Linked DNA regions of Homo sapiens: region 2 is linked to region 1. Evidence: fine-mapped expression QTL. A gene starts in region 1. The other region holds a variant in brackets. All regions are shown on one strand. Distances are from middle to middle. Region 1 holds the start of SARM1 (sterile alpha and TIR motif containing 1). Region 2 overlaps SARM1 (sterile alpha and TIR motif containing 1).

Evidence for each region. PIP is the estimated chance that this variant, and not a neighbour inherited with it, causes the effect.
Region 2: its variant is fine-mapped to the expression of SARM1 in whole blood (TOPMed, PIP above 0.99).

The regions. Positions count from the first base shown.
Region 1 is chr17:28,365,212-28,380,963 of GRCh38, reverse strand. SARM1 (sterile alpha and TIR motif containing 1) reads right to left here and starts at 9,270. Exons shown (of 9, transcript NM_015077.4): 1 at 8,462-9,270. The coding sequence starts at 8,931. It overlaps VTN (vitronectin), which reads left to right and starts at 10,657. Exons shown (of 8, transcript NM_000638.4): 1 at 10,657-10,824; 2 at 10,918-11,037; 3 at 11,113-11,457; 4 at 11,536-11,675; 5 at 11,936-12,092; 6 at 12,291-12,443; 7 at 12,905-13,249; 8 at 13,483-13,680. The coding sequence starts at 10,761. The coding sequence ends at 13,595. RefSeq lists silencers at 708-908, 8,718-8,887, 9,208-9,537.
Region 2 is chr17:28,387,992-28,401,705 of GRCh38, reverse strand. It overlaps SARM1 (sterile alpha and TIR motif containing 1), which reads right to left. Exons shown (of 9, transcript NM_015077.4): 6 at 13,430-13,532; 7 at 13,167-13,356; 8 at 5,680-5,801; 9 at 1-5,549. The coding sequence ends at 5,420. SLC46A1 (solute carrier family 46 member 1) reads left to right here. Exons shown (of 5, transcript NM_080669.6): 4 at 940-1,096; 5 at 1,993-7,064. The coding sequence ends at 2,050. Among named protein-coding and RNA genes, the nearest start is that of SLC46A1, 11 kb to the left of the region's middle. RefSeq lists enhancers at 3,121-3,210, 3,975-4,658, 5,342-6,025. The variant C/T (reference allele first, on the strand shown) is at 3,457.

The sequences.
Region 1 (15,752 bases):
AGTATGTGTGGTGGCTAAGAGCCTCAGCTCAGGAGCAGATCCCCTGGGTCCTGGTTTCTTCTCAGCCCGTTTTCTAACTGGGATAAAGGAGACCTTTGGGCAGCTTCCTTTATCTCTCTACCTTGCTTTCCTTATCTCATAAATAGAAAATAGAAATACCTGCCTCATAGGATTATTATCAGGACTAATGAGATAAGCCTTATAGAGTGCTTGGCACAATGCCTGGCACATGGTAAAAACTCAACAAATATTAACTTGTCCTAATTTGAAGTGTCACTTGAAGCACACCACTCTTAGCCTTGCCTTTTCCTCACTCCATGGCCCATGACCGGGGCATATCTATTCATTCATTCAACAGATGCTTCCTGAGGACGTCCCCTGTGCCAGCCACTGCACTAGGGGCTGAGGTTTAACAGAGACTGGCCAGAGCTTATCCTCAGGGCGATGGAGGAAGACATAGACAAGAAAACAATGAGTGAACCAGATCGTAGTGATAGGGCCTTGGCGCTAGCAAAACAGGATGATGTAATGGCGTGTGCCTGGAGGAGGGGTATGTGGGAAGAGGTGACATCTAAGCTTAATGTGAAGAAATCCCTGTGTGCAAATATCTGGGAGGAGCATAACAGGCAGAGAGAGGAGCAAGGATGAAGGCCTGAGGGCAGAGGAGCTGACGTGTTTGAGGAATAGAAAGAATGCCAGAGGTATTGCGATGTCTAAAACCAAAAAGGGAAAATATAAAACCAGGCTGGGCAAGGTGGCTCATGCCTGTAGAATGCTTGGCACAATGCCTGGCACATGGAGGCCAAGGTGGGAGGCTCACTTGAGACCATCCTGGACAACAAAGTGAGACCCTGTGTCAAAAGAAAAAAAAAAAAAAGAGAGAGAGAGACAGAAAAAAAAAAAAAAGAAAAGAAAAAAATCAATGAGGGGTTTATATGTAGAATATATCAGCAAATATTCAAATCAAGAAGAAAAAGGCAACAAATTCAAAAGAAAATGGGCAAAGGACATAAACAGGCAATTGACAAGAGGAAATCCAAAATTTGAAAAACCAGATAAAGAGATGCTCTAACTCATTAGTAATCAGAGAAATGAAAATTAAAACAATAGCTATCGCTACCTGAAATGTTCTTCAACAAAATCCGCTTCATGGTTCGTCATTCCAATGTCTGCTCAAATGTTACTTCCTTCCAATCATCCAATCTAAAGGCTTTTCCCCATCACTTTCTAACTCATTACCTTATTTTATTGTCTTCAGGGCATTTAATATCTGATATTATATTAATAGTCTACTTGTTTGTTAGTTCCATAGACCAGAAACCTTATCTGTCATTTTCTTTCTTAAAATGATCTAGGCCGGGTGCGGTGGCTCACGCCTGTAATCCCAGCACTTTGGGAGGCCGAGGCGGGTGGATGACAAGGTCAGGAGCTCGAGACCATCCTGGCTAACATGGTGAAACCCTGTCCCTACTAAAAATACAAAAAATTAGCCGGGCGTGGTGGCGGGTGCCTGTAGTCCTAGCTGCTCAGGAGGCTGAGGCAGGAAACTGGTGTGAACCCAGGAGGCGGAGCTTGCAGTGAGCCAAGATGGCACCACTGCACTCCAGCCTGGGCAACAGAGCGAGACTCCGTCTCAAAAAAAAAAAAAAAAAAAAAAAAAAAAAGATCTAAATGGAGAAAATTACCCTTTCCTAGAGTTTCTTCACCTAAATCATTTTATTTTATTTCAAAGGCCATTCCCACTCTCCTTTGTCCCTGACCACTCTCCACACACATACCTTGAATAAAATGTTCACTGGCAGAAAACAAGCAAACAGAAAACCAGCTACCACTTTACACCTGTTAGATGGGCAAAATCAGAAGCTGAACAATACAGGCAACCTCTCCCAAAGAGATTGTCATATAGATAGAGAAAAGCACTTAGACAAGGATGTTCACTGCAGTGTCATTTGTAGTGTGAGGAAGTTGGAGGCAATCAGTATCAAGCTTGGGGAGAGTCAGGTAACATGGGCAGGTGCCTACTCTGTAGGATTTGCAGGGAGGTCCAAGTGACTGAGCAGGTGATAACACAGCAACACGAACCTGGACAACATAGCCTGGGCAACATAGCAAAACCCTGTCTCTACAAAATCAAAAAAATTAGCCATGTATGGTGGCACAGGCCTGTAGTCCCAGCTACCTGAGAGGCTGAGGCAGGATGATAGTTTGAGCCCAGTAGGTTGAGGCTACAGCGAGTCATGATTGGGCCACTGCACTCCAGCCTGGGCATCAGAGCAAGACCCTGTCTCAAAACAAACAAACAAACAAAAAACCCAAAAAACAAAAAACAAAAACAAAAACAAAAAAACCAATAAAACCCAACACTGAGTGGGAAAAAGTAAGAAATAGAATGTGCTATATGACACAGCACTATTAATATACATTAAAAATACATGCACACAAGACCAAGAATAAAGATTTAAAGATTTTAGCAGAACACAGATAGAAAGATACACATTAGATATACTGAATGGTTCCTTATGGAGTTAGGGCAAGAGAATAGTGTGGGCATTAGTCAGGAGGAGAAGGAGAGATTGCATTTCAGTTGCATTTCAGGCACAGGTATATGCAAAGAGTTGGAGGTGTTGGAGAGCTGGTGCACTTGGGGAGCTGCCCACACTTCCATGGCTGAGGCAGAAGATTCAAGGGGAGAGTGTGAAAAGAGATCGGACCTGGGGACCTTTTGAGGCACCTCAAGGCATTTGTAGTTTATCTTGATGTCAAAGAGAAGCCACTGAAAACTCTCAGGGAGGGGAGTGGCCTGGCCATATTTGGGTTTTAGAAAATTCACTCTGGCTGTGGTGGAGAGGACAGATCCAACAGAGAGAACTTGGAGGCCTGCTGAGCAGGTGGGAGAGTTGCCACATCCTGGTAGAGGTTCAGGCTTCCTGCCTTACTGACCTCCACAAATGATGTCTTCCACAGATGGCCGGGCGCAGTGGCTCATGCCTGTAATCCCAGCACTTTGGGAGGCTGAGGCAGGAGGATCACTTGAGGTCAGGAGTTCAAGACCAGCCTGGCCAACATGGTGAAACCCCATCTCTACTAAAATTACAAAAATTAGCCAGGTGTAGTGGTGTGCGCTTGTAATCCCAGCTACTCAGGAGGCTGAGATAGGAGAAACACTTGAACCCAGGAGGCAGAGGTTGCAGTGAGCCGAGGTTATACCACTGCTCTCCAGCCTGGGTGACACAGTGAGACTCCGTCTAAAAAAAAAAAGTGATGTCCTCCACAGGTGACATTACTGCCAAAGAGGTAGAGGCCTAGCCAGCAATGGAGTCCTTGCCCAAAGGGCACCACAGTGACCATAGTGCATGTGATTTTGTGTCCACTGCAGAACCTACCTGAGTCCGGAACATGCCATAAGCTCACAGCTCACTGCAGCCTTGGCCACCTAGGTTAAATTCATCCTCCCAACTCAGCCACCTGAGTAGCTGGGACTACAGGCATGTACCACCATGTCTGGCTGATTTTTTTTGTTTTGTTTTCTTTTACTTTGTAGAGACAGGATCCCATTATATTGCCCAGGCTGGTCTCAAACTCCTGGGCTCAAACAATCCTCCCACTTCGGCCTCCCAAAGCGCTGGGAATACAGGCATGAACCACCTCACCTGGCCCAGTTATTCCTTTTACCAATGAGAAAACCAAAACTCAGAGAGGGTACATGACATGCCCAGAGTCACACAGTTTCTGAGAGGCACAGCTGAGATTTGAACCCAGATCTGCCTGTCTCCAGAGTTCAAGATCCTTCACCTTCATTTTGCGTTTCTAGACATCTGACTGCATAAATGCCTAGAATGTAAGAGCCAGGATATGTTTAAGAAATATCTAATGTGGCCAGGTGCGGTAGCTCACGCCTGTAATCCCAACACTTTGGGAGGCTGAGGTGGGCAGATCACTTGAGGTCAGGAGTTCGAGACCAGCCTGGCCAACATGGTGAAACTCCATCTCTATTAAAAATGCAAAAACTAACTGGGCGTGGTAGCAGGTGCCTGTAATCCCAGCTACTTGGGAGGCTGAGGCATGAGAATCACTTGAGCCTGGGAGGCAGAGGTTGCAGTGAGCCCAAGATCGTGCCACTGCACTCCAGCCTGGGTGATAGAGGGAGACTCCATCTCAAAAAATGAAAAATAAAATAAGAAAATTATTTAATCTGGCTGAATGCAGTGGCTCATGTCTGTAATTCCAGTACTTTGGGAGGCCAAGGCAGTAGGATTGCTTGAGTCCAGGAGTTTGAGACCAGCCTGGGCAACATAGAAAGACCCTGTCTCTACCAAAAACAAAAACAAAAACAAAAGATAAGAAGGAAATTATCTAATCCAACACCCTTACTTTTTCTTTTCTTTTTTTTCTTGACAGGATCTCACTCTGTCACCCAGGCTGGAGTGCAGTGGCGCAATCTCAGCTCGCTGCAACCTCCACCTCCTGGGTTCAACTGATTCTCATGTCTCAGCCTCCCAAGTAGCTGGGATTACAGACATGTACAACCACACCTGGCTCTTTTTTTTTTTTTTTTTTTTTGTATTTTTAGTAGAGACAGAGTTTTACCATGTTGGCCAGGCGGTCTTGAACTCCTGACCTCAAACGATTCGCCTGCCTTGGCCTCCCAAAGTGCTGAGATTACAGGCGTGAGCCACCGCCCCTGGCCAGCCAACACTCTCATTTTCAGAGGACTTACCTGAGGCCCAGCGAAGGGAAGGACTTGCTCAGGAACATATCAATTCAGACCTAGGACTTTATTTTGAGTCTCCTGATGCCCCAGCCCTCACTTTTCCCTATGCACCTGGCACCTTTACAGAGTGGAACTGTGCTGCACTCTTGTGATAACTACTCACCCAGCTCCCAGTTCTTCTGTGGTCTGAGAGGCTGTGGGTCTGGTGAAATGGGCAGATATTTTAGAATTACACAGGTCTGGATTCAAATCCCAGCTCCAAAGGAGGGGAAGATTGTATATATATTGCAAACATGTCTATATAATATACATGCAAATGCCTGTATATGCAGAGACTCTCTCTGGAAGGATATACAAGAAACTTGTTATAGTGGTTTATCTCCAGAGAGGGGGTCTGGTTGAGAAGAACTTTTAAAAAATTTTTAATTTAATTTTAAAAAATTGAGACAGGGCTCTCACTATGCTGCCCAGGCTGGTCTCAATCAAACTCCTGGGCTCAAGTAATCCTTCTGTCTCAGCCTCCTAAAGTTCTGAGATTACAGGCATGAGCCACCATGCCTGGCTGAGAATAACTTTTAACTGTATACCTTTTGTGTGCTTTTCCACTTTTTTGAATTTATGTGCAATGGCTTTCGTGATTTTTTTTTTTTTTTTTTTTAGATGGAGTCTCACTCTTGCCCAGGCTGGAGTGCAGCGGCACGATCTCGGCTCACTGCAACCTCCACCTCCCTGGTTCAAACAATTCCCCTGCCTCAGCCTCCAGAGTAGCTGGGATTACAGGCACACGTCATCAAGCCCGGCTAATTTTTTGTATTTTTAGTAGAGACGGGGTTTCACCATGTTGGCCAGAGTGGTCTCGAACTCCTGACCTCAGGCAATCTCCCGCCTGGGCCTCCCAAAGTGCTGGGATTACAGGCATGAGACACTGCTCCTGGCCGCCTTTCTGTGATTTCAAAAACCTGTCTCCTCCATTTATTCATTGAATATTCCTGGGAAAGCCATTTAACTACTCTGAGGATAGCTTCATTAAGATCCCCTGAAGGGGGTGGACTGTGAATATAGAGGGCTAGCAGTCATATGGGGACCTCACTGGGTGTTGTGGGGCCAGATTTGAAGAGCCATATTCTGTTGGACTTCTGGTAGTTGGAAGTCAGGAAAACTGTGACCTAGGCTCCTTGACAATGGGTGCAATAGCATCCTGAGAAGAAGAAAGCAAGAGGGAAGTGGCAAAAAGGGGTAGGCACACTGATGGAATTGTTTTTTTTTTTTTTTTTTTTTTTTTGACAAGGTCTGGCTCTGTCACTGAGGCTGGAAAGCAGTGGCATGATCTCAGCTCATTGTGACCTCCGCCTCCTGGGCTCAAGCCATCCTCCCACCTCAGCCTCCTGAGTAGCTGGGACTGTGCATGCCATCACGCCCGGCTAATCTGTATATTTTTTGTAGAGATGGGTTTTTGCCATGTTGCCCAGGCTGGTCTTGAACTCCTGGCCTCAAGTGATCCACCCACCTCAGCTTCCCAAAGTGCTGGAATTACAGGCATGAACCACCATGCTTGCCCAGAAGAGCCTTCTTTGAGATGAGGCAGTGGGGGCTTGGTTGGTGAAGGAGAAAAACATTTCATAAATTCGCAGTGTGTCACTCCCCTTCTCTTCTTTCCAGCCCCATTCTCATGCAGCCTACAAGGGGTGCAGGGACCCTCCCCTTCTTTTTTCTTTTGAGATGGAGTCTCACTCTGTTGCCAAGGCTGGAGTGCAGTGGCGCGCTCTCAGCTCACTGCAGCCTCTGCCTGCCGAGTTCCAGCAATTCTCCTGCCTCAGCCTCCAGAGTAGCTGGGGTTACAGGCACACACCACGCACCACCACCATGCCTGGCTAATTTTTGTGTTTCACTTGACCTCAGGTGATCTGCCTGCCTTGGCCTCCCAAAGTGCTAGGATTATAGACAGTGCCTTTTTTTTTTTTTTTTTTTTTTGAGACGAGTCTTGCTCTGTCATCCAGCGTGGGGTGGAGTGCAATGGCACAATCTCGGCTCCCTGCAACCTCCACCTCCCGGGTTCTGTGCGATTCTTCCACCTCAGTCTCCCCAGTAGCTGGGATTACAGATGCCCGCCACCATGCCCAGCTAATTTTTGTATTTTTTTTTTTTTTTAGTAGAGACAGGGTTTCACCATGTTGGCCAGGCTGGTCTCGAACCCCTGACCTCAGGTGATCCACCCGCCTGGGCCTCCCAAAGTGCTGGGATTACAGGCGTGAGCCACGGCGCCTGGCGGGGATCCTGCCTTTCTTTGGAAGTATTGTGATAGCAACCACGCACGTTGTGCTCTGTCCTTGGTCCTGAAGAGACCAGCGTGCGTTTCTTGAGACCAGGGACACTGGTTAGTGACTCTTCTCTCGGTAACTCTGAACCAGGTGAGAATTGCCATTTTTAACCTTGAGATATAGCAGTACTGTTTGCATCTTGCAACCCTCCTCTCCTTGGGCTGCTGGCTGTACTCACTCTCCAGGGATTGTAGTTATAGCTCCTGACTCCACATAGCAAGCCTGCAGGGCACACCTACCAGCCTTGACCCCACCACACCCAGTGAGCACATATTTTATTTGCTACCCCCTCCAAATTCATGGCCTATCCCCATCATGGCAACGGATGTCAGATGGGAGGTTAATGGCTTGCCAAATAAGCAGAACCCTATCTTGGTCTCCCAACCTAAATTGCTTCATTCATGCATTTTTGACAGTTGTATCTTTCCACCAATCACCAGGTAATTTTTTTCTTTTCGAAAATGGCAAGGAAAACACCCCCAACCCACTCCCTTCACACTTGTGAGAGCTGCATGAGCTGAAAGTGACTCTTCCAAAAACTCTTCTAAGCTTGAGAAGCTGGAGACTTCAGCATGAGACTGGAGTGTGACAGCTTGGTCTGCTCTGGCATCAGAAGGGAGGGAAAGTGAGTCCTTGGAGGTCTTCATACTCCAGGAGAGATCCCAAGAGACATGCAAGAGTGGCAACCAGGCCTCTGTTTGACCCTCTTGCGGCATCTTGGTGCTAAGTGGGGTGAAGGGAGAGAACACACACTCTGCCTGGTCCCCGCCGGGCTCTGCACCCCGGTGTCCTCTTCCCCCACCCATGCCTCCCAGCAGAAAACTGTTTCCCATCAGCAGCTGCAGAATGAGATCATGTCTGGCCTGTTGCAAGAACCAGAATGAAGGATGGAGCAGAAGTTGGATTGGGGCGGCAAGAAGGGAGTAAGCAGCCTCAGGCCAGCACGCCTTACAGCCTGGGGAGGAGGGAAAGGAGAGGTCTCCCTCCCTCTTTTCTGAGCGTTGTGTTTCCCTTCTTCTCTCATTGGGAGAGGGATGGGATGATGGCGAGAGAAGGTGTCATAGACGGGAACCCAAGCCGGTGGGAAGGAGAGCTGTGGGCTTGGGGGGCGGGGGAGAGGGAGAATTGGCAATAGGATGCCATCTCCATCCATAGAGCCAGGGACGGACTCCTGTCCTGTAACTCCATTCCTCACCCCACTAGCCCTGGGAGCAAATCTTAGTTCACTGTGATCCACTGAGCAAGTCACTAAACTTTCCCAAGGCTCAGTTTCCTTATCTGTGAAACAGACAGGCTGACCCCTAACAGAGATGTAGTGCAGGCAGTCAGAGAGGTGAGGGAGGCAAAGGCACGGCGCAAGGCACACGGGAACGCAGGCGCTTAACTGTCCACACCACGCGGCGCTCTCCCAACCCCGGCCTGGCGCGCTCACCGGTTCTCAGCCACCAGGATCTGCTCCAGCAGGCGCGCGGCCTGCACACGCGTCTCCAACTCCGGCGCCTGCAGCAGCCGCAACAGCAGGTCGAGGCCGCCATCGAGGCGGATGGCGTCGCACAGACCCTGGGCTACCTCGCGGCCCACGGCCGGCAGCAGCCAGGCCTCCTCCACCAGTTGGAAGACCTCGGCCAGGCCGGCGCCCACGGCCCGCGCGCCGCCCGCCTGCTTCAGCGCGGACAAGGCCTGCTGCAGCTCCGGCAGCGCGCGCTCCAGGGCGTCCTGCACCTCGGTGCCTGCCCCCGGCGACACTTCGCGGGGCCCGCGGCCACCCGCAGCCCACCATGGGCCCGTGCCACCGCCCCCATCTGGCCCAGGCACCGCCAGCCGCTCGGCGCCCGGCCGTGGGCCCGACATGGCGAAGAAGCGACACAGCTTGTAGGCGGAGAGAAGCAGCGTCAGGACCATGGGCGCGGGGCCGCGGGGGACATCCCCGGCCTGGAGGCGGGGCCACGCGGAGAGACCCGGGTTTTGGGAAAAGAGGGACCCGAGAGGGGTCGGGGAAAGAAGATGGAGGGGGAGGAATGGAGAGAAGGGTACCAGGCAAGGGTGCCGGTCAGAAGTTTGGGGGAGGAGTGTCGGCAGGATCGGGGGAGCGGTTGGCAAAGGTGATGCAGGCCCAGATGCAGGGAGTGGGCGAAAGGAGAGAGCGAGCAGGCGAGGGATGGCTCCGGACGCCGTAGGGTAGAGGAGGCGGCGGCTGGAACAAAGCGTGGCCTGGGCACGGGCTCGGCTGAGCTGGGAGATGCTCGGCAGCAGCCACGCCCCGGAGGAGCAGCGGTCCCCGGCCGACGCCCCGCCTCTGGGTCCCGCGGGGCTCCTCCAGCCTCCTGCAGCCACGCCCCGGAGGAGCAGTGGTCCCCGGGCCGACGCCCCGCCTCTGGGTCCCGCGGGGCTCCTCCAGCCTCCTGCGCAGCCCCACCCCCAAGCCGTCCCCAGCCACGCCCACGCCCCTGGCCAGCCTTCCCTAGCCCCTCAGTCAGTCGCAGCCACCTCCCCCTGCGCTGGACTTGGAGGAAGGGGGTGGAGAATGAGAGGACGCTCTCCGTTCTCCGCCCCGCCTCCCCGCCCCACGTGACATCGGTACGTGGGAGCAACACCGCTGGATGCCCCCTCCCTACTAAATGGTTAAAACAATCATCATAACTCTTAAGGCCCTTTTATGGCTGTTTCTTAGCGAAACCTCACAACATGCCTATGGGGTGGGAATTGATGTTCCATTCCACAGCTGACTCCACTGAAGCCCATGAGGAAGAAATTGGCCCAAATCACAGTCCCCTCTGATTACAGAACAGAAAAAGTCAGCTAAAATCTCAGGATCACTTTTTTCAGGTGATGGGAGGATTTCAGAAGTTCTGTGGACACCTGAAATTGGGCACAAAATCAGGTGTTTCATGCCAGTGGGCATTTTCCAGGTAGAGGGATCATATTTCTCTCGAGAGTCTAAAAGTGTGTTGAACAAGCCCACTCTTTACAGATGGGGAGACTGAGCCTGGGGACAGGGAGTGGCCTGCTCAGAAAAGACTCAGAAATTAAATCCAGTCCAGTGGGTTGATATTTACCCAAATTTCCAGCCTGGGGAGATTGATGCACCCAAGAGAAGAACCCAGAAATGAAACTTTGTTCTTTTATGCTAAAAAATAAAATTCCCCAGAGTGCTTACAATCTCTCCTCCCACTCCCTTTTTCCTGCCCTAAATAAATAATGGCGAATGAGCACCCAGCCAGGGATGTGTCTGATCAAACAATCATGGATCAATAGCTATGTTTGGAGAAGGAATTTGTGGCTGCTCCAGCTACTGGGCATTTTGTCTGGTCCAGTTCATGTAATCTCCCAACACCCCATGAAGCAAGGCTTTGTTAATCCTATTTTACTGAAAATGAACTAAGACTCAGAGAGATAAAGCTGTTGCCCAATGAGCCTTCTTTCTGCCCTCCAGATCCACGGTGCTAATTCCCCTTCCGATGACCTAATGATTCTGAGCTTGGCAAAGGTCTTATCTCCCAGCTCGCCCAGGCCCAGTGTTCCAGGAATGTGACCTTTGCTGCAGCAGCCGCTGGAGGGGGCAGAGGGGATGGGCTGGAGGTTGAGCAAACAGAGCAGCAGAAAAGGCAGTTCCTCTTCTCCAGTGCCCTCCTTCCCTGTCTCTGCCTCTCCCTCCCTTCCTCAGGCATCAGAGCGGAGACTTCAGGGAGACCAGAGCCCAGCTTGCCAGGCACTGAGCTAGAAGCCCTGCCATGGCACCCCTGAGACCCCTTCTCATACTGGCCCTGCTGGCATGGGTTGCTCTGGCTGACCAAGGTACAGGGGAGTGTTGGTGGCCATCTGGGTCAATGTAGGGAGGGCGAGGGTGGTCTGGGCTTGGTGGCACCGACTGACACTCCTTCCTCATAGAGTCATGCAAGGGCCGCTGCACTGAGGGCTTCAACGTGGACAAGAAGTGCCAGTGTGACGAGCTCTGCTCTTACTACCAGAGCTGCTGCACAGACTATACGGCTGAGTGCAAGCCCCAAGGTGTGTTCAGAGCCCAGGTGGGTGGGCTGGGGTGCCCCCTGCTGCTGGAGACTCACTACCATCCACTCTCTGCAGTGACTCGCGGGGATGTGTTCACTATGCCGGAGGATGAGTACACGGTCTATGACGATGGCGAGGAGAAAAACAATGCCACTGTCCATGAACAGGTGGGGGGCCCCTCCCTGACCTCTGACCTCCAGGCCCAGTCCAAAGGGAATCCTGAGCAGACACCTGTTCTGAAACCTGAGGAAGAGGCCCCTGCGCCTGAGGTGGGCGCCTCTAAGCCTGAGGGGATAGACTCAAGGCCTGAGACCCTTCATCCAGGGAGACCTCAGCCCCCAGCAGAGGAGGAGCTGTGCAGTGGGAAGCCCTTCGACGCCTTCACCGACCTCAAGAACGGTTCCCTCTTTGCCTTCCGAGGTGAATCCAGGGCAGGTACTGGGGATGCGGGTCTGCCCCAGGAGCGTCCCTGCTCTCACACCATCTCCTCCACTCTAGGGCAGTACTGCTATGAACTGGACGAAAAGGCAGTGAGGCCTGGGTACCCCAAGCTCATCCGAGATGTCTGGGGCATCGAGGGCCCCATCGATGCCGCCTTCACCCGCATCAACTGTCAGGGGAAGACCTACCTCTTCAAGGTGCCAGGGGCTGTGGGCCAGGGTAGAAAGCATCTAGGGAGGGTTTGAGAGCTATTGCTCCCAGGGACAGGGTGGACAGGGAAGCTGGACCCAGGGCCCTGCAGGACCTGGTGGGAGCTCTGTGAGCACAGGGCAGCCCCAAGACTCCAGGTCCTGGGCAGTGAACCTGGACCTGGGAACGGCTGCCTTAGGGCAAGGGACTCTGCCTCTGTGCCCAGCCAGCGGCCTCCATACCCCTTTTCACTTTCCCCACCTCTTAGGGTAGTCAGTACTGGCGCTTTGAGGATGGTGTCCTGGACCCTGATTACCCCCGAAATATCTCTGACGGCTTCGATGGCATCCCGGACAACGTGGATGCAGCCTTGGCCCTCCCTGCCCATAGCTACAGTGGCCGGGAGCGGGTCTACTTCTTCAAGGGTACTCAGGGGGTGGTGGGAGACTGAGCAGGCAGTGGAGCAGTCTTGGATTCCTTTCACATTTCACTGGGGACAGGCCTCAGCATGTGCCCACCCCTGACCCCCACCTCATGCTGGGAGATCCTAACTTCAACAGCCTCTGGGATCTCCAGTCTTGCCCTGGCCCAGCCCTCCTAATGCCCACCACCCTGCTCCTCAGGGAAACAGTACTGGGAGTACCAGTTCCAGCACCAGCCCAGTCAGGAGGAGTGTGAAGGCAGCTCCCTGTCGGCTGTGTTTGAACACTTTGCCATGATGCAGCGGGACAGCTGGGAGGACATCTTCGAGCTTCTCTTCTGGGGCAGAACCTCTGGTATGGAGAGAGGGCAAGTCTTGCTTCTCCCTCAAAAGGGCTGAAACCCCTTGGTATTGGTAGAGCCAGGCCGGCTGGAGGGGGCTGTGGTTGTGGAGCTATCGATCAAAGTCTGTTTGCTCAGGCCAGACTTTGCTTCTGTTGACCTTTTGGGGAAAGCTCAGCTCTACCTGGACCCCACACCTTGGACTTTGCCTAGCACAGCTGAGAGCACAGCCAGCAGAGGGAGGGGCTGTGGCTGAGGAGTTTAGGGGGCCTGGGGGGGTGGGGTCGAGACACCAGTGATATGGTGGAGGGAAAGCACAGGGGGAAGGGAATTGGACTGAGAGTCAAAGGCCTGGCTCTGCCATTCGCTGCTGTGTGTCTTTGGGCAAGGTGCAGCAGATGAACTCTAATGGCCCCGCTGGAAGGGGCAAGATTCGGACCCCCAAGACCTCTCATTCACCCCTTCCCTGCCACAGCTGGTACCAGACAGCCCCAGTTCATTAGCCGGGACTGGCACGGTGTGCCAGGGCAAGTGGACGCAGCCATGGCTGGCCGCATCTACATCTCAGGCATGGCACCCCGCCCCTCCTTGGCCAAGAAACAAAGGTTTAGGCATCGCAACCGCAAAGGCTACCGTTCACAACGAGGCCACAGCCGTGGCCGCAACCAGAACTCCCGCCGGCCATCCCGCGCCACGTGGCTGTCCTTGTTCTCCAGTGAGGAGAGCAACTTGGGAGCCAACAACTATGATGACTACAGGATGGACTGGCTTGTGCCTGCCACCTGTGAACCCATCCAGAGTGTCTTCTTCTTCTCTGGAGGTAGGAGCCGCTGCCACCCCTGAAGCTGGTCTAGCTTGGGTTTTCCTTGCTGTCCCTGGTGCACAAGGGCTGAACGCAGCCTGCAAGTAGTGACCACAGAAAGCCAGGCCAGAAGTCCTTAGCTGCATCATGGATGTTCACTTTCCCTTCTGGGAGAGACCCTAGACTTCTCAAGGGAAGAGTGGGCAGGGCCAGGCTGGGCCTCACGCATCCTCTGCTTTCCTCTCTTCCAGACAAGTACTACCGAGTCAATCTTCGCACACGGCGAGTGGACACTGTGGACCCTCCCTACCCACGCTCCATCGCTCAGTACTGGCTGGGCTGCCCAGCTCCTGGCCATCTGTAGGAGTCAGAGCCCACATGGCCGGGCCCTCTGTAGCTCCCTCCTCCCATCTCCTTCCCCCAGCCCAATAAAGGTCCCTTAGCCCCGAGTTTAAAATTATTGTTCTGACTGGGGTAGACACATCCCTGTCTGGGTAAAGGAGAGGAAGCTGGACTGTCAGAATGGGTTGGTGAGGGGGACAGAGAAGGGACAGAGAAGGGCCTCGCCGTGTCCAACCCATGTTGGGCTCAGGACCTCTCTGTGCTCAGGACCTCTCTGTGAACCGGTTTGGGGCTGGGGAAGGCCTCCTGAGAGCTACCCTTCCTCTTGAGCTAAGCAGCCCCCAGCAACCCACCAGCAGCTAAGCAGACACTTGAACTCCTCTGATGATGACAAAGTTACCAGGCCAGCCTCCGTGGGTGAGGCTTGCTTTGCCCCTTGGAGTTGACTAGGGTCTTGGAGGAGAGAGAAGGGGCAAGAGTTGGTGGGGTTCTGGCTCAGCTTTTTTGTCCATCCTGATCTGAAATCCTAGTAGCTCTGACTCCTGAGCACTTGGGGAACCAGTCACTGTGCTTCCCCAAACCCACCCCTAGGGTGAGCCTTTCTTGAGGTCTCTGTCTAGGGTCTAGGATGGGGAGCAGCAAGACCAGGAGAGATAGTGAAGGGCAGAAACTGAAAGGAAATTCAAAAGCACACACTTCTTGTGGAAAAGTGGCCCAGGAGCCCAGGAGTTTGAAGCTGCAGTGAGCTATTATTGTACCACTGCACTCCAACCTGGGGAATAGAGTGAGACTCTATCTCTAAAAACAGAACAAAATAAAAAAGGGGGGGAATTTTTGTCTGGGCATGGTGGCTCATGCCTGTAATTCCAGCACTTTGGGAAGCCAAGGTGGGAGGATTGCTGGAATCCCGAAGTTTGAGACCAGCCTAGGCAATATAGCAAGACACCATCTCTACAAAAATAAATAAGTTAGCTGGGCAACTTATGGGTGGTGTGTGCCTGTAGTCCCAGCTATTTAGGAGGCTGAGGTGGGAGGATTGCTTGAGCTTGGGAGGTTGAGGCTGCAGTGAGCAGAAATCACACCACTGTACTCCAGCCTGGGCAACAGAGTGAGAAAAAGAAAATTTAGGCCAGGCACGGTGGTTCATGCCTGTGGTCCCAGCACTTTGGGAAACCAAGGCCCGTGGATCATGAGGTTAGGAGTTCGAGACCAGCCTGGCCAACATGGTGAAACCCCGTCTCTACTAAAAATACAAAAAATTAGCCGGGTGTGGTGGCAGGCGCCTGTAACCCCAGCTACTCCGGAGGAAGAGGCAGGAGGTGGAGTTGCTTGAACTCGGGAGGTGGAGGTTGCAGTGAGCCAAGATCACGCCACTGCACTCCAGCCTGGGTGACAAAGCAAGACTCCATCTTGAAAAAAAAAGAAAAAAGAAAAAAATTTTCAAAATTTAAGAAAAAGTGGCTCAGAATATATCCAAGGAAGAGAATACTGTACACATAAACATCTTTATCATCTTTCTTAGAACCCCTCAACTGCACCTGTGGAACCTCCTCTGGTTCCAGGTTCCGAACCCCAGGAAGTCCATCTGGCTCTTGAGGGGCCAGAGAGAGAAAGGGTTAGATGAGGCAAAGCTCTAAAGCAGACCTGAGGGCAATCTGGTGGTGACATCTGTTCCCCAGTCCTGCTGACAGCGGCTGGCTCCCATTCATCCCGTTGACACCCTACCATCCTTCTCATCCTGTCCCACTTCACCAGCCCAGTCCCCAGTTGTGGGAGAGGACTCCACTCCCTCTCCCCTGAAGGTAGCCAGGTTCAGAGCACTAAGGGCTCCAGAAGGGGCAGCCAGTGCCTGGGAGCACTGGAGAGATGGTTTTCTTTGGCTGCCTGGAAGGACCCCTGGGAGGATTTTCATGAAGTATAGGATTTCAGGCACAGACTGCCAGTTTGAGGTTTGAGAAGGGATGCTGGGTCCAGCTTCCTTTGCGAGGCCTTGGAGGGGCAGGGGGTATACAATTTGCCCCACCCATACCCTCATAAGCCCAACCCGGCCTCCAGCCTCCCTTCTTCCCCACCGAGACTTCTCTGCCTTGCTTGAGCTGGACTCTAAACCTCTCCACTCCTGAAGGCGGGGCCAGCCACCCTGAGCATGATAAAACCCAAATGGGGGGGTCTGGTGTGG
Region 2 (13,714 bases), 22 kb before region 1:
CTGCCACAGGCCTGTTTCTTCATCTGTGATGTGGGTGGTTTGCTTTTGATGACATCACAGACCCCTCTAGATGTGACAGAATTTAATCTCAACTTCTGTTGGGTTGTTGCACATTTTGTAAACTGTGGGTTCTCCTGGTATATCTATAAAGAACAGCTTCTCCAGCCTCTGGGTCTTTATGCCCCAGTCTGGAAACATTCATCTTTTTCCATCTGTCCTGGAATGAGGATCTGATGATGACAGAGACTCTGGTGCCATACAGAGCCCACTGTGGGTTCTGGTGTCCCCAGAATCCATGTGTCTTCATTCATTCACCTAAACTTTTTTTCCCAGCACTTTCTCTGTGCCCAGAGATGTCAAGAGAAACAGGAGAAAAGAACAGCCCTTACTAACTAGCTACTTCCAGGGGACCAGGCCCAGTGATGGGTGATTTCCATGTGAACTTAATGTTGCTCACAATCTAGGAAATAGGTATTATCCTTATTTAGCAGAAGGAGGAACAGGAACCCAAAGGATAAGAAGCTATTCAGTGGTGACACCGCTATGAATATTGGAACTGATCAGACCAGCAGTTAATCCCAAACAGGAGATGATTCCAAAGAGGATAAACCAGAAAAAAGCCATTTCCATCAAGCTTTCATCAGACAATATCACATGTACTTTTTTTTTCTTTTATGTGCTGGGTTCTGTCAGATCACATGTACTTTTAATGTGGATTTAATAGCAGCCATTTGTTTAGTAGCCCCTCTGTGCCAGCTACTGTCCACATATGACCTTACTGAATCCTTGTCACAGTACATGATGTAGCAGGATTTACTGGTGAGGAAGGGGAGACATAGGTTAAGTGACTACTCCCGGTCACACAGCTGTGAGGTGGTGGTGCCAGAGTTGGAATATGGCCCTTTCGGACTCCAGAGTATGGTATTTATTTCTTCACAGGTGCTCTCTTTTCTGCTGTGGCCTGTGTGAATAGCCTGGCCATGCTGACGGCCTCCGGCATCTTCAACTCACTCTACCCAGCCACTCTGAACTTTATGAAGGGGTTCCCCTTCCTCCTGGGAGCTGGCCTCCTGCTCATCCCGGCTGTTCTGATTGGGTAATGCAGGGCCCTGAACCCATGCTCATAATGGAGCCCTTTCTCTTAAAAGTTTCCTCTTCTCCTCCCAACCAGAAATGGCAGCTTCATTCCTGGAATCCTTACCCTCTGGGTGTCTTGTCCCAGGTTGCCCCTCTCCTTGCAGATGGCTGCCTAATCCTCCAGGAGCCATTTTCCAAGGGCGAGATGGCGAGCTAGGTGGAGGAAGGATCAGGCTAACATTGCTGCTTGGCAAGGCTGTGTTCTCTCTCCCAGTTCCCCTATTTCCCTCCATTCCCATTTTATAGATGGAACTATGGCAGCAGAACTGTGTTAAAGGGAAGGCCAGGAAGCTTTGTCAGCTAGTTGTGGCTGGGCCACAGGCTAGCTTGACCCGCTGACTTTTTCCTGTATGATATTAAGAATTATATTTCATGGCCGGGCGTGGAGGCTCTTGCCTGTAATCCCGATCCTGTGGGAGGCTGAGGCAGGAGGACCACTTGAGCCCGGGAATTCAAGATCAGCCTGGGCAACATAGCAAGACCTTGTCTGTATAAAAAATTTAAAAAATCACCCAGGCATGGTGGTATGCACTGGTAGTCCCAGCTACTAAGGAGGCTGAGGCAGGAGGATCACTTGAGCCCAGGAGTTCAAGGGTACAGTGAGCTATGATTATGTCACTGCCCTCCAGCCTGGACAACAGAGCAAGACCCTGTCTCTTAAAAAAAAAAAAGTTATTTTCCAGAGCCATGTCCCTGGATATTGTCCTCCAGCTCTCAGCTTCTCAGCTTGGGGAAGGAGGAGGTTCAGGAGAGCTACCTGGACCAGCCCACCCCAGTAAATCCTGTGTCACTTCTCCAGACAGGCCTTGAGGGTTCCCCACATGAAATCCAAACTCTCTCTCTGGTCTCTCACAGGATGCTGGAAAAGGCTGATCCTCACCTCGAGTTCCAGCAGTTTCCCCAGAGCCCCTGATCTGCCTGGACCAGAAGACAGAGGGCAAGAGGAGCAAAGTGAACACCAAGCAACTGGAGGTCTGCAGCTGGAAGCCCAGCCCACAGCAGGACAAGCAACTCTTGTCTAAGGGCAGTGCTCTCTTTGGACGAGGTAGTCAAGAGAGACCAAGGCACCACCCCATCCACAGCTGACCCAGCCTCTGTCTAGGATCTAGAATCATAACCCACACAGGCCCACTGCAGGACAGGTGGCAGAGGAGCTATTTGGGACAGGAGTCAGTTCTCCCTTTCTGCTATCCATCACTTATAACCCCACAGGCCAGAGGAGAGGTCCTGAGAGAGGTGACACTTCAGGGACCAGAGGCAGCACGAGGGCTGGCATCTCTCCTTCCAGCCCAAACTGCACAGCCCCAACCAGGTTCCCAACACGTGTAGCAGTCATCAGCCATTCCTTAACAATGAATGTGGTACCTGGTTAGTGCCAGCCTTGGGAAGGAGGGAGGGAGGTAAGAGGGGCTTGGTGATCTCTGGAGGAAGAGTGTTGCCTTTGCTGTGGTTGGGGAATCGATCCTTGGCTATGGCCTACCCACTCCCCTGGCTGAAGAGTGCCAATCATTACAAATCAGCTTCAGCAAACTGAAACAAACCTTCTGGTGCCTTGGGCTTTGGGGCCCTCTGTTTTCCTGCTCCCAGTCTGCCTGCCATACGTTAGACAACAGAAGCTGCTGGGCTGGGCAGGAGCCCTGAGCTGCCTGGTGGATTGGTACCAAGTGGGGCCAGCCAGGGCTTCTACTGACTCGCTGTGCAACCTTGAGCAAGCCCCACTAGGAACGGCTAGATCAGCAATGCCCCAAATTGTTGAATCGTGGTGATCACATTTGGATGGACAAGTTAGGAAACTTAGCTGATTCTCTGAGATACTTCCCACTTCCTCATACATTCTACAATGAGATGCCTCTCTTCATGGGCCTGGGGAAAGGATGAATGAGTGTGGCTGGACTTTTGACCTTTAATGTCCCTGAGCAGTTCTTGGCCCTTGGGGAGAAGTAGGGGGAGGATCTGGCTGACTCAGCCCCAACCGAGGGGTAGCAGCTGCAGCCCAGCCAAGCAGAACACCCTGGCCCTACAGACCTGTGTCTGAGCAGGCTTTGGAGGAAAGGCCACTTCTGAGTCCTCTGTCTCAGGAGAAGCCAGGCCTAGGTGCTTGACCTGGTGATCTGAGCTGTGTTTGTCCTAGTATGGGTGGCAGTCACCTCTGAACACACTGGCCTTGGCTTAGAGGAGGCTTGTGACTTCAGCTGTTCCAGCTGGGGCTGGATGCTGGACTCTGATTCCCTCAGAGAGACAGAAGATCGGGCAGAGGTCAACCAGAAGGCCACACAGGGCAGTGGACAACAGTGGAGGGTATACCAAATAGAAATAAAA[C/T]GCAGGAAACCTCTCTGAATACTGCCCTTGGGGACCTCAGGAGGGAGTGGGACTGATTGGAGACAAAGAGCCAGAAATCATCCCCTGGAGATACTCAGACACTGTATTGTTATTGGCGCTGTCCTGTGAGGGCAGTGTCCAGGCTGCCCTGCTTGTCATATCCATGCCCTGGCTCTGGCCCCGGTGAGCACTTGTGCTGCATGAGGAAAGGAGGATCAGGTGGGGTCAAAACCAAAGCATCGAGGCTGGCACTGGCCAAGACAGACTCTGGCAGGGAGGGGAGTGGAAGGAAGGAGCCCCAAACCTGGAGTGAGACCTTTGACTTTCTGATGATGTGGCCAAGAACTAGGAGTCACCTGGCCAGCACAGCCAAGAGTGGGGCTGGGGGCGCAGCCAGCTTTAAGGTGTCAACACCTGGCCCTTGCGGGGAAAGAGCCTTCAGCAGCCCCCACGGCCTGGAGCCTGGGTTTATTGGAGGGTGCTTTCTTACCCTCTGAACCCAGTGGAGGAGGGGGCAATGGGATATTCCTGCTCTGTATGGCCTCTGGGTCAGCTTTTTGTTGCAAAATCCTATCCCCCGCTGCTAGATTCTTTGAAGCAAGGGAGAAGCAATAGCCCAGCCTCAGAATGATTCTCAGGAAAGCAATTCCACTGCCAGTGGACTGGGTGCCAGGAGGCCTAGGTCTGGATCTGGGGCTGCCACTAATGACAGGAAAGTGGGCTTATCCTCAACCTTTCTGAGCCTCAGTGTCATTATCTGTAAAATGGGGATGATAATACCAGGTAGAGTTGCTCTGATGACTGGAGACCATGGAGCGGAGTGTTTGGGAAATGGCAAAGATTTGTGAGGGCTTCGTGCTTTAGAGATTTGCTACCCTTAACCACCAGCATCAGCTCACCTGGGAATCTGTAAGAAATGCAGAGTCCTAGGCCCCACCCCAGATCTCCTGATTTTAACAACATTCCCAGGTGACTTGGATGCATGTTAAAGTTGGAGAAGCTGCCCTAAGTGACAACCCTTTGCCTTTTCAGGACTTTGCCTCTTTCCACAGAGCTGCAGGTTCTGTCTAGGCTGCTTTTACTGCCATGGGGGCTGCCTGGTCCCTGAGTAAGCAGTGGGTAGCCCTGGATGGCTGAGGGGCTGGGGAAGCCAGCTGGGCCAGACCAGGAAGGAGCCTGAGGCACAGCACCAAGGCATGGGGTAGGGTGGGCTTTGAGGCACGGCCTCCCCATGCCCAGACCCAGGCCCAAACAGGAGGCTCCTGTGCACCAGCAAGTGCAGCAAAGCTGGCTGCAGTGACAAGGAAGTCAGAGGGAGGGCTGGTTTGCCTCAACCCTCGCCCTGGATGTGGCAAAAGATACCACACCGAAGGAAGCTGTAGGGGATCTGGGACTTAGTCAGGCTAGCTAAGGGCACTGAGTGATTACAGGGCAAGGCCACAGAGCGGCAGGAAGTTGTAAGTGCAGGGGCCAGGCACAGTCTGAGTGGAGAGCCATGATGGCACTCATCCCTGGCTGGCTCCTGGGCCCAGGCCCTTGCTCAGAATACAGTGCCCAGGCCCGCCTGGGCATTGCCTTAATTCCTGTCTGAGGCTGCCTTCCGTCATCCTCCTCAAGCTGACTGCTATCAGCAGGAGAAGGGAATGCAGAACCACCCCCACCCCAACTCCAGTGTCTCCAGAACTGAGCAGGGACCCTCCCCATGACGGAGACAGACAACCCAATGGCAGGGCCTGGGGGAGTTCTAACCTCCCGTGCCCAAGCCTGACTTCCCTTCCCTCTCCAGATACTGAGGAAAGTGGGTTGGAGGTGGGCCATGAGGGTGGGGGACAGGGGGAGGGAGAGCCATTTCCTAAGAAGAGCCCAGGTTGTCTCAGCCCAGGGAGACTGGTTTCAGGAGCTGTTCCTTCAGAAAGGACGATGGAAATGGAAGTCACAGCAGGGCTGGGGAACTGGGGACTGGTTAGGTTGGACCCATGGGTGCAGCACCCTCCAAACTGGTGTCAGAGCCTGCAGATGAGTCCCGGGAGGAGCGGCCCTGCAGGAAGCGGATGATCTTCTCAATGGTGGCCTCCTGGTATTCGTGGGACCACCTGTGGGCACAGGAGCCAATGTGGTTCAGACAGCTGGGCAGAGGGAGCTGCTAGTCAGCTGTTTGCCCACACTCTGCCTGTCATGGTGATTTGTACCCTACCCCCCTGGTCCCAGGGCCCTGGGGCTCACTTGATACCGTTGAAAGTAAGCACAGCCTGCATGTCCTCAGGCAGGACCTGGGGCTCAGGCCACTCGAAGCCATCAATGATGGGCACAATGTTCTTGCCGCAGCTTAAAGCAGTCACAATCTCCTGGAGAAAGAAAGGAAAGGAGGAAGATACCCCTGTACCCATCTAGGGACCCTTGTAGCCAGGCAGGTGCTGGGAGGCCCACTGGCCCGAGGCTGGGCCCAGGGCAGGACACCAGTCCTGATGTCCACCTTGATGTCTACCTTAACCCTTGTAGTGTAATAAAAAATAAATATTTTTCCTTTGCCCAGAGTTCCTGGCACAGAGCTGCTAAAACCCTTGGAATCTCTTGAGTGATGAGTGTCTTTGTATGCTAAAGAGATGATTCCCCACTGGGGGCCCGGGGGGTGCTATGGGGGTAGCCTAGATAGTTTCAGGAAGAGGGCTGGTCACCAGGGAGACCAGGGCATGACTAGAGGATTGGAACTTTCAGCCCCACCTCCCAGCCTCCAGAGAGGTGCTGGAGATTGAGTTCAATCACCAATGGCCAATGATTTAATCAATCATGCCTACATAATGGAACCTCCATAAAAACCCCCAAACAAGGGGTTTTGAAGAGCCTCCAGGTTGATAAACAGGTGTAGGTGCTGGGAAGGTGGTAGAAGGCATGGCATCCACACCTCCACCCTCCATACGTAGAGATCCTATGTATCTCTTCCATTTGGCTATTCTTGAGCTGTGTCCTTTATAACTGTGAAATTAAATAATTCAGCTGGGCATGGTGGGTCACGCCTGTAATCCCAACACTTTGGGAGGCTGAGGCAGGAGGATCACTTGAGCCCAGGATTTTGAGATTAATAATATTATTTATTACTATTATTCAAGCTTTGTTAAATCAAACCTAAAGCTCTTGGAACTTTAAGTTATTCTGAGCCTTGACAGGAATTGGTCTCTGCAGCCTGAGTCATGGGGCATGCAGCTGCAACTTCCACCTATTTTTTTTTTTTCTGTAATTACTTAGGAAGACCAAATGGCACCAGAGATAAGACTCCCTTAGATCCCCACTTAGATCACCACCCTTTCTCAGGGGGTAATAAAGTCATCTTCCTTGGAATGTAGCAATCTATAACCAATCAAAGCACTGTAACATACGCACTGGTCTTGTATGGAAAATGTTGTAATCCTGCTAAAATTCCTCTCTCTTTGCCTGTGGAAGTGAAACCTTAACTTCTCCAGTTTGGAATGCTCACCCCATGCCTTTGGAGTCAATGCTTACTGGGTGGCTATTCTCAAACTTTGCACTCAAAGAAACTCTATACTTAGTCTTATTTTCTGAATCTCATTATTTAAGGTTGACATAATAAACAACTAATAGTAAGTAAAGTGCTTTCCTGAGTTCTGTGAGTCATTCTGGCAAATTGAATCTCGGGGTGTCATGGGCACCCCCGAATTTGTAGCCAAATCAAACAGAAATGTGGCAGCCTGGGGGCCTGGGCCTCGTGACTGACATTTCAGAATTGAATTGAATTGCGGGATACCCAGTTGGTGTTGGCAAGCTGGAGAATTAGTGGTTAGTGTGGGAAAAACCCCAAACAATTTGGTGTCAGAAGAAAAACATCACACTCCTGCGTACAGGTTGATCCATCATGCGCCCTGCCAATTGTACTCCTTACTTATTTCTCAAATCCACTATTTTTCCCTACCTCCACCCCACTACCACCCTCTTCCAATCCCCATTATCTTTAAGCCCCCACCAGGTCTTTCCTCATCCACGCTTGTCTTCTCTAATTCACTCTCCACATTGCCCTTTCATGTAGCTAATATTTGCAAAATGCACATCTGACAAATTAGGTCCTGTCACCCCCTACTTAAAATTCTTCAAGACTTTGCATGGTCTTAGAATAAAGTCCAAACTCCTTCATGTGGCCTGTGAGACCCTATGTGGTTGGCCACAGTCCACTTCTCAAACTCTACCCCTGCCCTGTCCTCCCAGACACACAAAATAAGCTTCCTTGTCCTTCCCCCTTGATAATGCCCATTCATTTTTCTGATCTGAGCTCAATCAACTCTTACACAGGGCAGTTGTCTCCCACTGCCCTGACCAAGTCAGTTCCCCTATTATAGGCTCTGCAGAACATATTATAGTTGCAAATTTTAATTAATTAATGGGTAAATTACTCAGTATTTGTCTTCTCTGCCAGACATGAGGAGGGATCATATCTATTTTTCACTGACCTTATATCTCAGCATCTTTCACAAAGCCCTTATAGTTAGCCCTTGCTAAATATTTAATAGATGGATGAATGAATGAATGAGAAAACATAGCACAGCAGTTAGGGCTGCACTCTGGAATCATCAAATCGGGGTTTGCACTGAGTCTCTGACACAGGCTCTACGACCTGAGGCAAAAATAATAGGTTCTCAAAGTCTCTGTTTTCTCTTTTCTTTCTTTCTTTTTTTTTTTTGGCGGGGGGCAGGGGAACAGGATCTCACTTTTTGCCCAGGCTGGAGGGCAGTGGCACCATCAAGGCTCACTGCAGCCTCAACCTCCTGGGCTCAAGCCATCCTCCCACCTCAGCCTCCCAAGTAGCTGGGACCACAGGCGTGTGCCACCATGTCCGGCTAATTTTTTGTATTTTTTAGTAGAGATGGGGTTTCACCATGTTGCCCAGGCTGGTCTCAAACTCCTGGCCTCAAGTGATCCTCCCACCTTAGCATCCCAAAGTGTTGGGATCACAGGCCTGCACTACCACACTCGTTCCTCTGTTTTCTAATATATAAAGCAGGATTAATGATAGTCCCTGTCTTCAGGATTGTTCCATGGAATAAGCGCAACATTCCATGGCAAGTAATTAGAACAGTGCTTTGCATGCAGTGTATGCTTAATACGTAATAGGTGTTATTATTTCCTCTTCTGTAAAGTGGGGATAATAAAACCTACCTCAAAGCGTTGTTCTGAGGAATTATTTGCTAGTAATCGGGTTCCATTAAGTGCTTATTGAATGTTTTTCTTCCTCTCAAGAGGGAACCAAAGGGATTTTACTTTTTTGAGTGCAGTTCACTTGTGGTTTTTCCCTATTGATTACCCACTAATGTGGCTTCAGGGAAAGGAGTTTTAAAACCAGAGGCAATTAAGCACCAGAAACAACCAAAGAGGGATGACGGAGCCTCTGGGGCCGGTCCAAGACAAAGGCTCCTCTCACCTCTTTGCCATCTGCTGGGACGACAAGGGGTGCCAAGCATTCTTGGGAAGTGGAGCCTTCCTGGGGAAAGAACATGCGTAACTTCGTCCTTGACTGGCTTCCTGGGGAGCCGCTCCATTTTACAGATGGAGAGAAAAAAGCCCAGAGAGGAAGGGATTTCCTCCTAAGCCACACACACGCCCAGCCCACGAGGGGCCGGTCCTCTGACTCAAGCCTCGAGAGTCCAAGTCCAGGCTGTTTCAGCCAAGCCCTGCTGCCTTTCTGCTGAGCATTGGAATGAATCCTGAGCCTGCAGCAATTTATTTGGAAATTTTTAGAAATTTGTTTCATCCAGAATTATACAAAACCAAAGACAGTACAAATTATTCATCGCACAGATTCAGAGGCTGGCCAAGAAAGGGATAATGGCGGCCGTGTGTGGTGGCTCATGTCTGTAATCCCAGCACTTTGGGAGGCCAAGGCGGGCGGATCACGAGGTCAGGAGATCGAGACCATCTTGGCCAAGATGGTGAAACCCCGTCTCTACTAAAAATATATATATATAAATTAGCTGGATATGGTGGCGTGTGCCTGTAGTCCCAGCTACTCAGGAGGCTGAGGCAGGGGAATCACTTGAACCCGGGAGGCGGAGGTTGCAGTGAGCCGACCAAGATCTCACCACTGCACTCCAACCTGGTGATAGAGCAAGACTGTGCCTCAAAAAAAAAAAAATAATTAAATAAATAAAAGAAAGGGATAATGGTTTGTTCAGGATCACCTAGCTGGTTGAGAACGAAAACAATTAGAGTCAAGTCCTCTGGCTGGGCACGGTGGCTCATGCCTCTAATCCCAGAACTTTGGGGAGCCGAGGCAGGCACTGAACTCCAGGCTTGAGCTCAGGAGTTCGGGACCAGCCTGGGTGACATAGCGAAACCCTATCTCTACTGGAAAAAAAAAAAAAAAAACGGAGTCAAGTCCTCTAACCTGGTAAATCTACTAGATATGTATGGCTCTCCCAGGCATGGCATCTCAGCTTCATCAGTATCACTTGTCTGCTTAATCATTGATTCAATTGTTCTATAAACTCCTCTACAGCCTCAGCCTCTCTCTCTCTCTCTTTTTTTTTTTTTTTTTTTTTGGTGCAATTGCATAGAGCCTCCTTTGTACCATGCATGGTTTTAGGCACCAGGGACACAGATGAATGAGGCAAGGTCTGAAGTCTCATGGAGCTCACAGACACTCTTTTCTTTCTCTCAAAAGGCTGCCTGCCACGTGCTCTGGGTTATCAGCCATGTTCTTCCTGGATGCTCAACTGCCCCAGTGCCCCTCCCCAAACCAGGCCTAGTACTCAGCCCCTCCTACATGGCCTCTGGGGCTTGACTCCACACTCCATGTGGACTGCATTCCAGTGTCAGAGCCTTCATCCTAAGACCCACCGCCCTGGCATCTTCTCCTTCATGGGCTCCTTGATTTCCAGTGCTTTAAGCACAGGTCTTCTCCTGCCTTTAGACACTGCTTTACCTGGTTTCCATGGTTCTTATCCAGCCAGTGGTGTGCTGCTAACTTTATAGTAACTAGCTATTCATGGGGGAAGAAAACCCAACCAGCCAATCAACCAAACTAACAAAACTTTGATTTGTAGTGGTTGCCAATTTCCTTGGTGTAAATACTCCCACCATGGCTGATGACAAGCTACCAACATGACATCACTGGATGTGGAGTTGTGAAGAGATACAATCATCTCTGGTGTCAACCGAATCCAGCCCTACCCCATCACCTCCCCTCACACCCCCTCAGAGCTGTGCCATAGAATGCAGTGTGGATCTTGGGAAAGTGATGAGCTTTGGAGTCAGATAGATGGAATTTGAAGCCTAGCTTTTCTGATTTCTACACTAGTAGTGCAGCCAGGGGAACATTATTCTACTTTTCTGAGCCTCAGTTTCTTCATCTGTGATATGGAGAAAGCAGTACCAAGATGTATGTGGGCTTTCAGCACTGTTCTCCTCCCTACCTTTATTCCTTTGCTCATGCTGTTACCCTGGCCTGGGATGCCTTCTATTCCACTTACCCAGATTCTTAAGATTCTTCTCAAGACCTGCTTCCTCCATGAAGTCTTCCCTGATTATTCCAGTCCTTTGAGGACTAAACTCTGATTTTTTTTTTTTTTATCTTGCCCAAATTCCTACCTAAGGAGCCTAGGGAGTCATGCCCTACAAACCATAAAGTCTTATCGGAGGAGGTTTTAATTTTAACCCTATATAGCGTGGTCTGCTTTCTAACCTGACTCTAGCATAACATCACATAATAAGGGAGGAAATAAAAATATTTTAACCCCAAATATATTTCCCTGCCATATCTTGAAATTGCTCCACAAGTTTGTCTCTTGTGGGAAAAGGCCACATTCTATAGAGAATCCCCTTCCCCCCATTTTTTTCTTTTTCTTTCCGGACTCAGGAGATAATCAACAAAGAGCCAGGCACCCTTATAAGTCTGATAAGAAACATTTTATAACCTACTCCCTCTGAAGTCTGCCCTGAGAACTTCCTCTGCACAATAAAACTTGGTCTCCACAACCCTTTATCTTAACCTAAACATTCCCTTTCTATTGATCCCAGGTCTTCAGATAAACTCAATTAATTATCAACTGGAAAAATTTAAAATTTACCTATAGCCTGGAAGCCCCTGCTTTGAGCTGTCCTGCCTTTCTGAACCAAACCAATGTACATCTTAAATGTATTGATTGATGTCTCGTGTCTCCCAAAAATGTATAAAACCAAACTGTGCCCTGATCACCTTGGGCACGTGTTCTCAGGGTCTCCTGAGGGCTGTGTCACAGGCCATGGTCGCTCATAGAGTCTGACTCTTTTCGTTGACACCTTGATGCTCTCTCCCTTCTCCAAACCCCTGTGGCAAGCAAGATGTTTGCTTACCTGGCTCAGCATTTACACCAACTTGTATGCGATCTAGTCATTTTGAGACAGGGTCCCACTCTGTTGCCCAAGCTGGAGTGCAGTGGTGTGATCTCCGTCTTCTGGGCCCAAGCGATTCCCCTGCCTCAGTCTCCTGAGTAGCTGGGATTACAGGTGTGCGCCACCATGCCTGGCTAATTTTTGTATTTTTTTAGTAGAGACAAGGTTTCACCATGTTGCCCAGGCTGGTCTCGAACTCCTGACCTCAAGTGATCCTCCTGCCTCAGCCTCCCAAAGTGCTGGGATTACGGGTGTGAACCACTGTGCCCAGCCCTCTGGGCATATTCTTGTCTCTGAGCTGACTGCTTGTCTCATCCTGTCTCTTAGATGACTACTGCATCCCTCAGCCCCAACTCCAATTCCTACTGACCGATTAATGATTAATAACCTGAAGATGCAATATGGAGCTATCCATCAATGCATTCTGTTAGTATTCAATAAGTTCCTACAATGCGTCAGGCACTGAAAATACAATGATGAATTAAACAGATATAGTAGTTATAATAATTATATTAATAATAATAATTGCTACCATTATTGAGCAGTTACTATGTGCCAGCCATTCTGCTAAGCACTTCACAAATTTTGGCTTTTTTAGTCCTTATAACAATGTTCTAGGGAGTTAGATACTATTATTATACCCTCTTTCCAGAAATAAATATGAAGCTTATCGGGGTTAAGTAACTTGCCCAAGGCCAGAGCCAGGATTCAAACTCTCAGTTTTGAGCTCTCAACAACTATTCCATTCTGCCTGTCGCTATGCTCTCCTGTCTCTCATGGAATTTATTTTTCAAAGCATTTTTATGTCTCTCTGATCCTCACAACAGTTCTATAAGGTGAGTGGAACAGGTAAGTTACCCCATTTTGCAGAAAAGAAAACTGAGGCTCACATCCTGGCTAACACGGTGAAACCCTGTCTCTACTAAAAATACAAAAAAATTAGCCAGCCGTGGTGGCGGGCACCTGTAGTCCCAGCTACTCGGGAGGCTGAGGGAGGAGAATGGTGTGAACCCGGGAGGTGGAGCTTGCAGTGAGCCAAGATCACGCCATTGCACTCCAGCCTGAGTGACAGAGCGAGACTCTACCTCAAAAACAAAAAAAAAAAAAAAAGAAAAAGAAAACTGAGGCTCAGAGAGCCAAAGCCTAGTCTCTTGTCCCTTGTGGTTTGCTAAAGTCCTATTACAGTCAGAGCTGTGGTTCCTGACTTCCAGCTGGGCCAAGGAGGTGCTTCAGGGCTAAGTGTGCCGGGATGTGCAGACAAGAAGGAATAGAAGACGACCCTATCTTCTGGACCACAGGCCAATGCTGGGACCGCAGAAGCATAGGCAGGCACCTACCTTATGCACCCAATCCTTGCAGTCATGGTCTTGCATGCACTTGTCCAGTGCTCCAGGTGATAGCACCAACACAAAGTTGCGGGCACCCATGACACTCTGGATGAGTTTGTCCTCGAACTTGCCTGCTTCCAGCTTCTCCACATCAATGAAGACACTGAAGCCATGCAGCTGCAGGTGCACCTTCAGGAGACTGCAAGTAAGTCCTGTGTCAGTGCCACAGCCTTGTCCCCACGCCCCGTCGCTGCCCGCCCGCCCCTCCTCACCTGGCCAGCTGGGAACCTGAGTTCCGGCGGTAGCTGATGAAGACATCTGGAGTGTCCCCACTGGGTTTGCCACCAGTACAGGGCAGCGGGGAGTGTAGCATTTCTGAAGTGGGCAATAGGCAGCATGGTGAAGGTGGCCCCTCCGCATCACTCACTGTCAGGTATATCATCCCTTGTGGACTTAGTCCCCAGTCCACCAAGCCCTCTCAGCCCAGCCTGGGGAGGGTGGCCTGCCCCAAAAAGGAGAAATGGGGCCTCCAGGAGGAAGGTCATGTTATTGTTGGG